Linked DNA regions of Homo sapiens: region 2 is linked to region 1. Evidence: fine-mapped expression QTL. A gene starts in region 1. The other region holds a variant in brackets. All regions are shown on one strand. Distances are from middle to middle. Region 1 holds the start of TSPAN13 (tetraspanin 13). Region 2 has its middle 40 kb from the start of TSPAN13.

What was found. PIP is the estimated chance that this variant, and not a neighbour inherited with it, causes the effect.
Region 2: its variant is the best candidate, but not a certain one, in a credible set for the expression of TSPAN13 in whole blood (INTERVAL, PIP 0.71).

What each region holds. Positions count from the first base shown.
Region 1 is chr7:16,750,832-16,756,216 of GRCh38, reverse strand. TSPAN13 (tetraspanin 13) reads right to left here and starts at 2,462. Exons shown (of 6, transcript NM_014399.4): 1 at 2,187-2,462. The coding sequence starts at 2,249.
Region 2 is chr7:16,710,807-16,716,191 of GRCh38, reverse strand. No RefSeq gene overlaps it. Among named protein-coding and RNA genes, the nearest start is that of TSPAN13, 40 kb to the left of the region's middle. The variant G/A (reference allele first, on the strand shown) is at 3,075.

The sequences.
Region 1 (5,385 bases):
TTTCATCTTAAAATGTTGAGAAAGAGATCAGGGGAGAAATAGAAGCTAAATAATGGCCATGGCACATTTTCAGCATCTATCTAAGACTTGATCCAACTTTTACCTGTCACTTGCCTCCACTTTAAACTGCTGCAGTTATTTAAGCCTATTTACAATGTAAAAGAAGCAAGCAGCCACTAATTCATTTTAAGAAATGTCCCTTTGTCTAAAAAGTCTATGATTTAAAAGGGCTAGCCATTTTTATTGTCCCGTGAATTTCCAATTCATTAAGTTTTACTGCATAGCTATTAAAATCAATAGAACACACACTTTGAAGGTCAATAATTTAGAATAGATATTAAATAGTCTTAATATGTCCCTTTAGAATCACCTTTCTTTCGCCTCACTTTCCTGATATACTCTAAATACAACTAAAAATGATGTCTAGAAAGCAAGGAACTTCATTTTAAAATAACTTGCCTTTTTAAAAAAGATTATACATTGATATAGACCCTTCAGTGAAGTAAGTATGCAAAGTAGACATTCCACTCTGTGTAAGCAGGCACTGTAAGACTAAGTGTCTGGCAAACAGATGACTAAATCATTGGCAGAAAAAAAACAGAACTCAGGTCACAAAATAAGGAATTTAAAGTTCCAAGCAGGCCACTCACACTGATTTAAAAAAAAAAAAAAAAACCCTAGAGAACTGGTCAGCATTTACTTAATAAACAGCCAGGGTGATAAGCATACCTCAGGGTGATACAGATGAATTTTGATCTGAAACTTGACATGTATCTCCAAGGAACTGTATCACCAGGTGTTCTAAAATTTTTTTCCCAAGTCTACTATTAATGACCATGTTGACCAGATTCTTACTAACTAGCCATAAAAGCGTACTCAATGCCTGTTTCTGTCTTGCCTTCAAAGCTTGCAGTCATGTTCACATACAAAGGAACAGTAAAGGTAAAATGACCCAACCTCCTTCTCCTGTTGGTGACCACAAGGCAGCCTCTCTATTCCAAGGAGGTAATCTAAGCTTGCACAGATGGCCTAGCTCTCTGCTAATGCAGGGGTGCTGGGTTTGTTTTCAGGGTGGGTGCTGCAAAGCGCCAGGTATATTTATAGAAGGGAGCAAGACTACTATGGAGGGATGATGACAGAAGAGGAAGTTTCTTCCGCCCGGTAGAGACAGCCTGTGGAAAGATCTGGATTCCACAGCCTAGGTTCCACTCCTGACTCGTCAACTACCAGCTATGTAAACTTACTAAAACCTTTTTGGTCTGTTACCTTATGTATAAAATGCAGATAATGCCCCATTCCCTCAGAAGGTTGTCAGAATGATGAACGAGCATTGTGTATGTAAAACCTGGGACGTGATAGGCATTCAATAAATGTCGATCTGTCCTGCCCATCCTCCTGTTCACCCAGAATTGCGCCTCAAAAAATCACAAAGAGAGCCTGCAGCGTTAAAACTAAGAGGCCCAAGCTGGTTGGCAGGGAAAGAAACGACTTGGGTGGGGGCTCGCTTATTTCCTGGAGGACTTGGTTTAAAATGGAGTTAGGATATTGATCATGGACAAGACACACAGAAAAAGCACCAAGTACTAGCAAAACTGACAACAACAAAAACAAAAAGACATCCCTTTACTGTGAGCACGAAACAAACTTCGGAAGCAGCGGACATCCTGTGAACCTACTCAGTGGCCTCAATTAAAATCCCGAGGGTACCAAGAGCTAACCCAGAGGCACACCAGCCATATGCCGCCTCGTCAGTTTCAGGCCACGCCATTCCGCAAAACTGTCCGCAAGCCCTGACGGCTCTCGCGCCTCCACGCCTGGCCCAGATGCGTCTGGATGTCAGGAGCGAGCGGCAGAAGGGTACGGGGTGGGAAAGCGGAGAGGTCCGGTTGAATGTTTGAAAAACAAGGCGGTGGGTGAGGGGGCGGGGTGGAGCAATGTGGCAGAGACGCGGCCAGCGAGCCTGAGAGACCGCGGCTTCACAATGAACGAAAGGAAGAGACTGCGACAAGCGCCGGCGCCCGGTCCCCGGCGGGGACGGATGGTGAGGCCGGGGGCGCGCAGACGTGGGAAGCCGGGAAGGGGGCGCGGGATGCAACGAGTGAGTCGCTGACCAGGCAGGGAAGCCAAAGAGCTCCCAAGCAGGTGCAAAGCCCCCAAGCGAGCAGGAACGGACTGGGGATACTCACGGTGTAAAGCAGGTTGAGGGCGCACAGGCAGTTCTTGGAACACGCGAAGCCCCCGCAAACCATCTTGGAACCTGTGGTTGCCGGCAGCTGCACGTAAATTCGACTCCGGCGGAGGTTCCCTGACAGCTGCTTTGTCCTTGCCTTTGGGGCCTGGCCCAGGCGGGGCAGCAACGCAGACGTGGGTGGGGGGCCGGGGCCTGGGGCTGCAGTGCGCGGCGCGCGCGCGGCGGCGGCTCGGACCCGCTTTGGAACCTGCGGCCGCCGCAGCTGAGCCGGAGCAGGAGCCCGAGCCCCGCCCAGCCCCTTCGTCTCGCCCCGCGCGCTGATTGGCCGCTGGCAGGGAACAAAGGTAGAAATATGCAAATAAATGCGCTCCGCCGACCGGGATCCGGGAGGGGCGGAGCGGTCCCGGGGCGAGGGGGAGAGGGCCAAGGCCGTGTGGGAGGGAGCCCCAGGCCAGAGCGGCGGCCTTGGTGTAGTTTCCCCAGGAGCAGGTGAGGAGGGAGGGCGGGGCTCGGAGGAGATCCACGCTGGCAAGGAGAAATATGACAGCACCTCTGGATTCTTGGCCCTGGCAGATGACGTGGCACCATTTTGAATGAGATTTCAAAACTAAGCACCTGGCCTTGTTTGAGGGAAGGAAGGCAGGAAGCAAGTAATGAATGAAAACATGTGAAAGATTTAAAAGAGAACGAAGTAGAGGCAAATGAAAGGGAGAAAATAAGTGAAACAATAAAAAATAAAATAAAATCCCTGCTTCTCTCAGAAAATAAGATATGTGCCCTATAATTGTGACCTGGACAGGTCAGACTTATCCTACAAAGATTTGCAAAATACTAATAAACTTTATGAATACATGCATGCAAAGGAAAATCAAGAGCGGGAGAAGGTGGGGATGGTTAATAGGTCCAAAAAAATAGAAAGAATGAATAAGACCTACTATTTGATAGCACAATAAAGTGACAATCGTTAATAAGAACTTAATTGTGTATTTTAAAATAACTTAAAGAATGTAATTGGATTGTTTGTAACTCAAAGGATAAATGTTTCAGAGGATGGATACCCTATTCTCCGTGATGTGCTTATTTCACATTGCATGCCTGTATCAAAACATCTCATGTACCCCGTAAATATATACATCTGCTACGTGTCAACAAAAGTTTTTTAAAAAATTTTAAAAAGAAAATCAAGAGAGATTATTTTTGTGTTCTGGTCGTGAATTTCAATAAACTTATTTTTTCACAAAAATAACTGAAAATCTTCAAATAACTCAGACTTCACCTCAATTAATTCATTATCAGTTTACTGCTTCTCTACTATAGAAATGCATCTTGTATCCTTAATTCCTCACCTATAAATTGAGATTTTAGAAGTATGTCAAGCACTTTTTGCATAGTGGCTGGCACAGGGGAAGGCCTCAATAAATGTCAGCTAGTATTCATAGATCTGACATTTTGTAAAGGCCTACTGTGTTCCAGGCACTAAGCGAAGGCAATAAAGGTTTATTTACTTCATAGTAGTTTCTACCAAAGAAAAAGGTTTTATAAAGAGATTTGCAAGTTTACAATACTATATCTAACCTAAAGGTTCATACGGAGTAAATTATGTAATTGCAAATGCTAAATTGTATTAAATTAAATTAAACATTGCAGCTGATTAAAATAATTCGTCTTCTTAGAATTCTCTGCTCCCTCTTCCAGCCTCTCCTTCCCTCCCCTGACCCCACCATACCAACAAGACCTCATTAATTTGTTAGGCTTTCTATTCCACATTAACCTTTTATATACAGCTAGAAATATTTCAAAAACTAACCTGGAAAATGATCCTCAAACACAAACAATGCTTTGATGATGCTCAACTTTCCTTTTTAATAGCCAGAGGTTTACAAAAGATGAGGCATTGGCAGGGAAATCTATTCATTCTCTTCCCATTCCTGGGTGTCACCAACATTAGTACCACTTCAACTATCACTCAACCAACTATTGCAACTCTCTCTTTGGCTTCTGCATAATATCTTCACTATCTCCCTATAGGCTGAATCACTTTGTTTTCCCAGAGAAGTACCACCTATCAGTCAGGGTCCCAGCAAAAAGGAGATGACTCGTTCAAATAGCATAACTGAGAAGAATTTCAAAAAGGGACTATTTTCAAAAGTGTGGACAAAGTTAAAGGAAACCGGCTGGGTGCGGTGGCTCACACCTGTAATCCCAGCACTTTGGGAGGCCGAGGGTAGTGGATCACCTGAGGTCAGGAGTTTGAGACCAGACTGACCAACATGGTGAAACCCCGTCTCTACTAAAACTACAAAAATTAGCCAGGCGTGGTAGCGGGCACCTGTAATCCCAGCTACTTGGGAGGCTGAGGCAGGAGAATCACTTGAACCCAGGAGGTGGAGGTTGCAGTGAGCCAAGATCGCGCCACTGCTCTCCAGCCTGGGTGACAGAGTGAAATTCTGTCTCAAAAAGAAAAGGAAACCAACAAAGCATGATGAGGCAGCTCAGAGATAGTAAGAGCAGGAAGTTCTAATTACCCCTAAGACTAAGGGGGTGATTTAAGGGAACAGTTACAGAAGCCAGGCAAGAGCTATAGTTGTAGGAGAGTTGTCTGATAGGAGATACGGCTTTTGATAGAGGAAACAAAACAATGTCTGAAAATAGGAAAACAAATGGACATGTTGCAATTTCTCCTGATTTGGATATAGAAATTTTCAAAAGACCATTTGTTCCCACCCTAATAAGAACAAGCAGTCTGGACAACATAGTGAGACCCCATCTCTACTAAAAATTGAAAATATTAGCTGGGTGTGGTGGTGCATACCTGTAATCCCAGCTATCCCAGCTACTCAGGAGCCTGAGGGGGAAGGATTGCTGGAGCCCAGGAGATCAAGGCTGCAGTCAGCTATGATGGCGCCACAGCACTCCAGCCTGGGTGCAGACCAAGACCCTGTCTCAAAGTAAGTAAAAACAAGCTAGATAAGCTACCAAATCATACTTACAACAAAAAACTATCGAAGAACTGAGGGGCTAAAGGCACTAGAGGAACTAAAATCCAAGAAGTGATGAGACATTATTAGAGGGGGAAAAAAACTCATAGTCACTTTCATCTCTTATAGACTGGCTGTGGAAGGGAGAAACTACCTTTGAGAGGGATAAGGAGAAACTAAATGACTATTTAACCATCTTCTACTGCCCCTACCTGG
Region 2 (5,385 bases), 40 kb after region 1:
GAACTTCTGAACAACACTATCAACCACCAAGACCTCATCCATATTTGTAGAACACTCCACCCAACAACTGTAGAATACACATTGTTTTCAAGTGCAAATGGCATATTCACCAAGATAGACCATATGCTGGGCTATAAAACAAGTCTCAATAAATTTAAAAGCTTTGGAATCTTACCATTTATGTTCTCTTACCACAATGAAATTAAACTAGAAAGTAATTAAAACCACATATTTTAAAACTCAAATATATGAAAATTATACAATGCACTCGTAAATAATTCATTGGCCATTGTCATTGCTCAAAATATTTCAAAGCCATTTAGCAGGTACAAGTTATGACGTGAAACAGGTTGTGATTTGAACAAAACGCTAGAGGCCAAAGTGAACAGTTTTTCTAAAATCCATGAAAAAACTTTAAGGTTGGTCCAAAGCAAGATACATGATCAAATATCTCATCTGCTATTTTATCCTCAGCATCAGAATTTTAAAATCCTTTGTTGCAAGCTAGTTAGCCTGGTACTCTCCTATCTAGGCTGCTAGAAGCATATACACAGAAAATTCATCTTTCCCTACTCTGTAGCACCTGTGTTACTCTCTATTCTCTGAAAGTTTTAGATATGTTGTAAATAGTCATCTCTTAGATTTCCTTGTATTTAGAAAAGTTGTTTTTTGGTACTACAACAAAAATTGTTGTTTGGTTGTAATTGTTGGTGAGCACACTGGAAAAAAGAAAAAAAAAACAAATACATTTTCACTTTATTGCTCACTAAGATAAAAAAATCAAGAAAGACCAGTTTTAGGACTATACTTTTCACTGTGTTCCCACACACTTGGGAATGAGTTCAGATTAGCTGTCATACGGCTATAGGGCACTAACATCTTCTATCCTCTTACATCAGGTAAAACCCACTGAAGGATGCCAGGACATCTTTCTCCAGAGATATTTGCCAGTTTTAATCAGCTTTCAGGAAAAATGAAATCTACCATCTCACTAATCCCTTATCCTGTGCCAAAGCCTGGTCCTGCCTCAGTTCTTGTCTGCTTGCCCTTATGTCCCCTTGGGAATGTGTTCCAAGATGTTTTGACACCTGAAGTTTGGGTTAGGTCAGTGTTCCTAAGCCCAAGCTTGCATCCAAATCACCAGGAGGGCTTGTCAAAATAGATTGCTCAGTCCACCCCCAGAGTTTCTGATTTTGCATGTCTTGGGGGGATCCTGACAGTCTTCATGTCCAGCTAGCCCCCAGGGAATATCAATGCTGCCAGTCTGGAGACTACACTCAGAAAACCATGAGGATTTCCTGCTAAAAAGAAAAGATAATGCTACGAAAAGGTCTAAGATTCCTCAAAGGATTTAGTTGGTTGTAAAACATCAAGGACTGCTTCTTCCCTGGGGACTAAAAAATAATAATAATAAAAAAATCAAGACTATTTGAATTGAGACATTTCCCACTCTCCTGTGCCTCTTAAAATACTTTAAAAGTGTTTTATTTTATTTCATTTTATTTTTTTATTTTGAGACAGAGTCTGGCTCTATCACCCAGAGTGGAGTACAATGGCTCTATCTTGGCTCACTGCAACTTCTGCCTTCCGGGTTCAGGCTATTCTCCTGCCTCAGCCTCCCAAGTAGCTGGGACCACAGGTGTGAGCCACCACACTGGCTAATTTTTGTATTTTTAGTAGAGACGGGGTTTCACCATGTTGGCCAGGCTGGTCTCAAACTCCTGATCTCAGGGGATCCACCCACCTCGGCTTCCCAAAGTGCTGGGATTATAGGCGTGAGCCACTGTGCCCAGCTGAAAAGTATTTTTAAAAATACAAAATAAAAATACTTGAAAATACTTAAAAAGTAAAAAAAAACTTTAGGATTTTATGGGAAAAAACCCTCAGAAGCAGAAAGTCAAATATCACATGTTTTCACTTTCACAAGTGAGAGCTAAACAATGGGCACACAGGGACATAGAGTAGAAGAATAGACACTGGAGACTACGAAAGGCAGGGGTGGGACTGAGGGGTGAGAAATTGCCTGTCGGGTACAATGTATGCTATTTGGGTAGTGAGTACACTAAAAGCCCAGACTTCACCACTGTACAATCTATGCACCTAAGAAATCTGCACTTGTACTCCCTAAATATATAAAAATTTGTAACAACTTTTAAAAAAGAATAATTGGCATTGTTACAGAGCCTGGTTAGACAATCCTCACAGTAAAGTTCTTTTTGCTTCCTTTGAAAACAAATAATAAGAGAAAGTGTCAGGAGTATTTTATAAATAAATTATGGGCCCACAGTGTATTGGCTCTGTTCCAGGGAATGACACAATCAATAATGATGTGTCGTTGTTTAGTGCATTAATCCAAATTCTCATGAAGTAGCAGTCAGGCTGTGGCTCCAATGCTGAACTTGTTAAAGAAGGTATAGGAAAAATTTAGGATGAATTTTTGATCAACTCTTTAAAAAGGATTTCTTTTTTTTTTTTTTTTTTTTTTTTTTTTGAGGCGGAGTCTTACTCTGTCACCCAGGCTGGAGTGCAGTGGCGCAATCTCGGCTCACTGCAAGCTCTGCCTCCCAGGTTCACACTATTCTCCTGCCTCAGCCTGTCGAGTAGCTGGGACCACGGGCAACCGCCACCACACCCGGCTAATTTTTTGTATTTTTAAGAGAGACAGAGTTTCATCATGTTAGCCAGGCTGGTCTCGATATCCTGACCTTGTGATCCGCCCGCCTCAGCCTCCCAAAGTGCTGGGATTACAGGCGTGAGCCACCACCTTTGGCCTAAAAAGGTATTCTTCTTAACGCACATTCACTCACTTAGACATTCGAACTTTACGGGACACCAACTTCCTGCCAAGCTATGTGCTACGCTATATGGCAATTGCAGATACAGAGTTGAACAAAATACAATCTGTCTCCTTAACTGAAGACATAACGGACTTCAGAAAGTCAGCACAGAAATGGAGCTTAGTAACCATTCGGCCCCGCAGTTCTCCAAGTGTGGTTCTGACACAGAATAGTGTCATCCGGGAACTTGTTAGAAATGCAAATCCTTAGACCCCAGCCCTACTGAGTCAGACACAG[G/A]CTGGCAGGGGTGCAATCAACTGTAACAAACCCTTGGGTGATCCTGATGCATGCTGAAGTTTGAGGATCAGCAAGGTAGCCCAGTCATATTTTACTTTCCTTAGGTCACAGACCACTGACTATCTGATGAAAACAGAGTTTTGCAGATTACTTTGGGTGGCTCACACTATTGGTTCAAGGCTGAATCCTGTCCAAGCTCTTATTTTTACAATTAAGCAAAGTAAATACCAAGAGTTAAGTGACTAGCTAATTAGTTTAACAGCAAATTAAATGGCAGAATGGGGTCTTCGCACTCAAGCCAATCAATTCCAAGTTCCTATCTCTACCCCTTCACTTACAACAGCAGCAAAAGTCAAATGTGGGAAGAAGTCCAAAGGACTGAAGCCACAGTCGTTTATGATTTCATTAAAAAAAATCTATCTTGCCCATAAAGATGTGACTACTTTTCCAGAGAAGACACGGATGATTTTTTTTTTTTATGATGAGGAAAACCATGTGCTCCAAAGATTATCTCTGAAAAACAGATATGTACCTAGAAATTATTCTCTGCCAAGAACATAGTGCAACATTCAGGCTCATTAAAAAATAATGTTCTCATTTCACCTGTTCCTGCTGAAGGAGCTGGGCATTATTGTTGCTAGGTCAACTGTGGCTACTTAATCACACACCAGAAAACAACTAAACACAAAGAACAACAAAAAAGGTAAAACAAGGTTGAGTAAAAGAAGACATTAACAAAATAATATTAAATGCATCCATTTCAAACACAGGCAAAAATAATCCAGGATCATGATTTCTTGGGTGGAGGCTGGGGTTGGGAGAGGTAGGAGGAGGCTAACGTTCAATTTCTTCACTGGATCGCTGATTACCCAGGTGTGCTATTTCCATTCAAGCCAAAGACTTAGATGCACTTTTCTATATGTTGTATGTCAATAAAATAGTTAAAACGCACATAAAACCAAGATGTAAAGGTTTCAATCATGCAAAGATTAGTTCTAAAAAGGTGTTTTATGTGGAAGAAACATTTTACACCCATTTATTCCACAAGAAAAGGTGTACCAAGGTATATACCGGGTGTAGGGTATACCAGGAGGGACTTTGAAGTCTATCATTTCTCAAAAGTACAGAGAGCAGAAAGGAAATAATTACCATTAGTTCAGAGAAGATGTGGTCAGAAACACTGAATCAGCATGAGCTGGGAGGTGTTTTAGAAATTAGTAATGGGACGCACATTGTCTCAAGCCAAACAATTCTATGACTATGCAAGACATGATATGTTTCACGATTGTTGGTTTCTTGGTTTGCAAATGAAAGATTTTTATTTCCCTCTACCCCAACAAAATTTTGCAAATTGGAAACTGCTGAATTCCAGAAGTTTCGAAGTGTAGCGTTCTATTTTTAGACACTAACATAATTTTAAATTTCTTACTGAAATGATACTGCCTTGAACTATGCCCAAAATGGGAGTAAAATGTATTTAAAAGTATACATGCAAATCCAGAAAGTGACATCACATTGTGTTAAAATGTTCAAACCCTTTAAGCCAAATTCCATGTTTTTTCTAAATAACCATAGATGAAGAAAAATTTATATAAAGGTATATTTTAAATGCTAGTTTTTAAAAGCAAAAAGTTAAAGATACCTTATACAGAATTCTGGAATAATTAAATAAATTGTGACCCTTCTGGACCAAGAACAATGACATGTTCAAAAATCATGTTTTTGAAGAATAGTTATTGATATTGTAAAAATACAGAGTATGATTAAGGAGCAGGATATAAAAATAATATAGAATAAGCACATTAATTTTAAAATTATGAATGTATCAGATACTCTAAAGAAATCTAAATAGGTGTGAAGAGTAAAAAGAAAAATTATTATTTCCCTTTCTTCGTCCCATCACTGTCCAAGATACATGCAGAAATAACATTTATAACAATTATTAGATAATATTTTCTCTTTTATGTATTTATAAGGGTAAGGTATACATACACATAACTTTTTTGATGAAAAAAACATTCTTTAAAACTTGCATTTTTCCTTGAACAATATATTATTAACATCTTTTTTAGTTTACCTTAACTTAAAATCGCTATCTCAAGTTTTGTTTGGGAAAAATACTTCGTGCTAGAAAATGTCAAGTAGTATTCTAAAACTGTTCGAGTCATAGATTAGAAATGCATATCATGGGACCACCCTGCTTAGCTGCTTCCAGATTCCTGACCTACAGAAACTATGGCAGAAAAAATGTTTAAAAAATGTTTATTGTCTAAAGCTGCTAAATGTTAGGGCAATTTGTTTCACAGCAAAA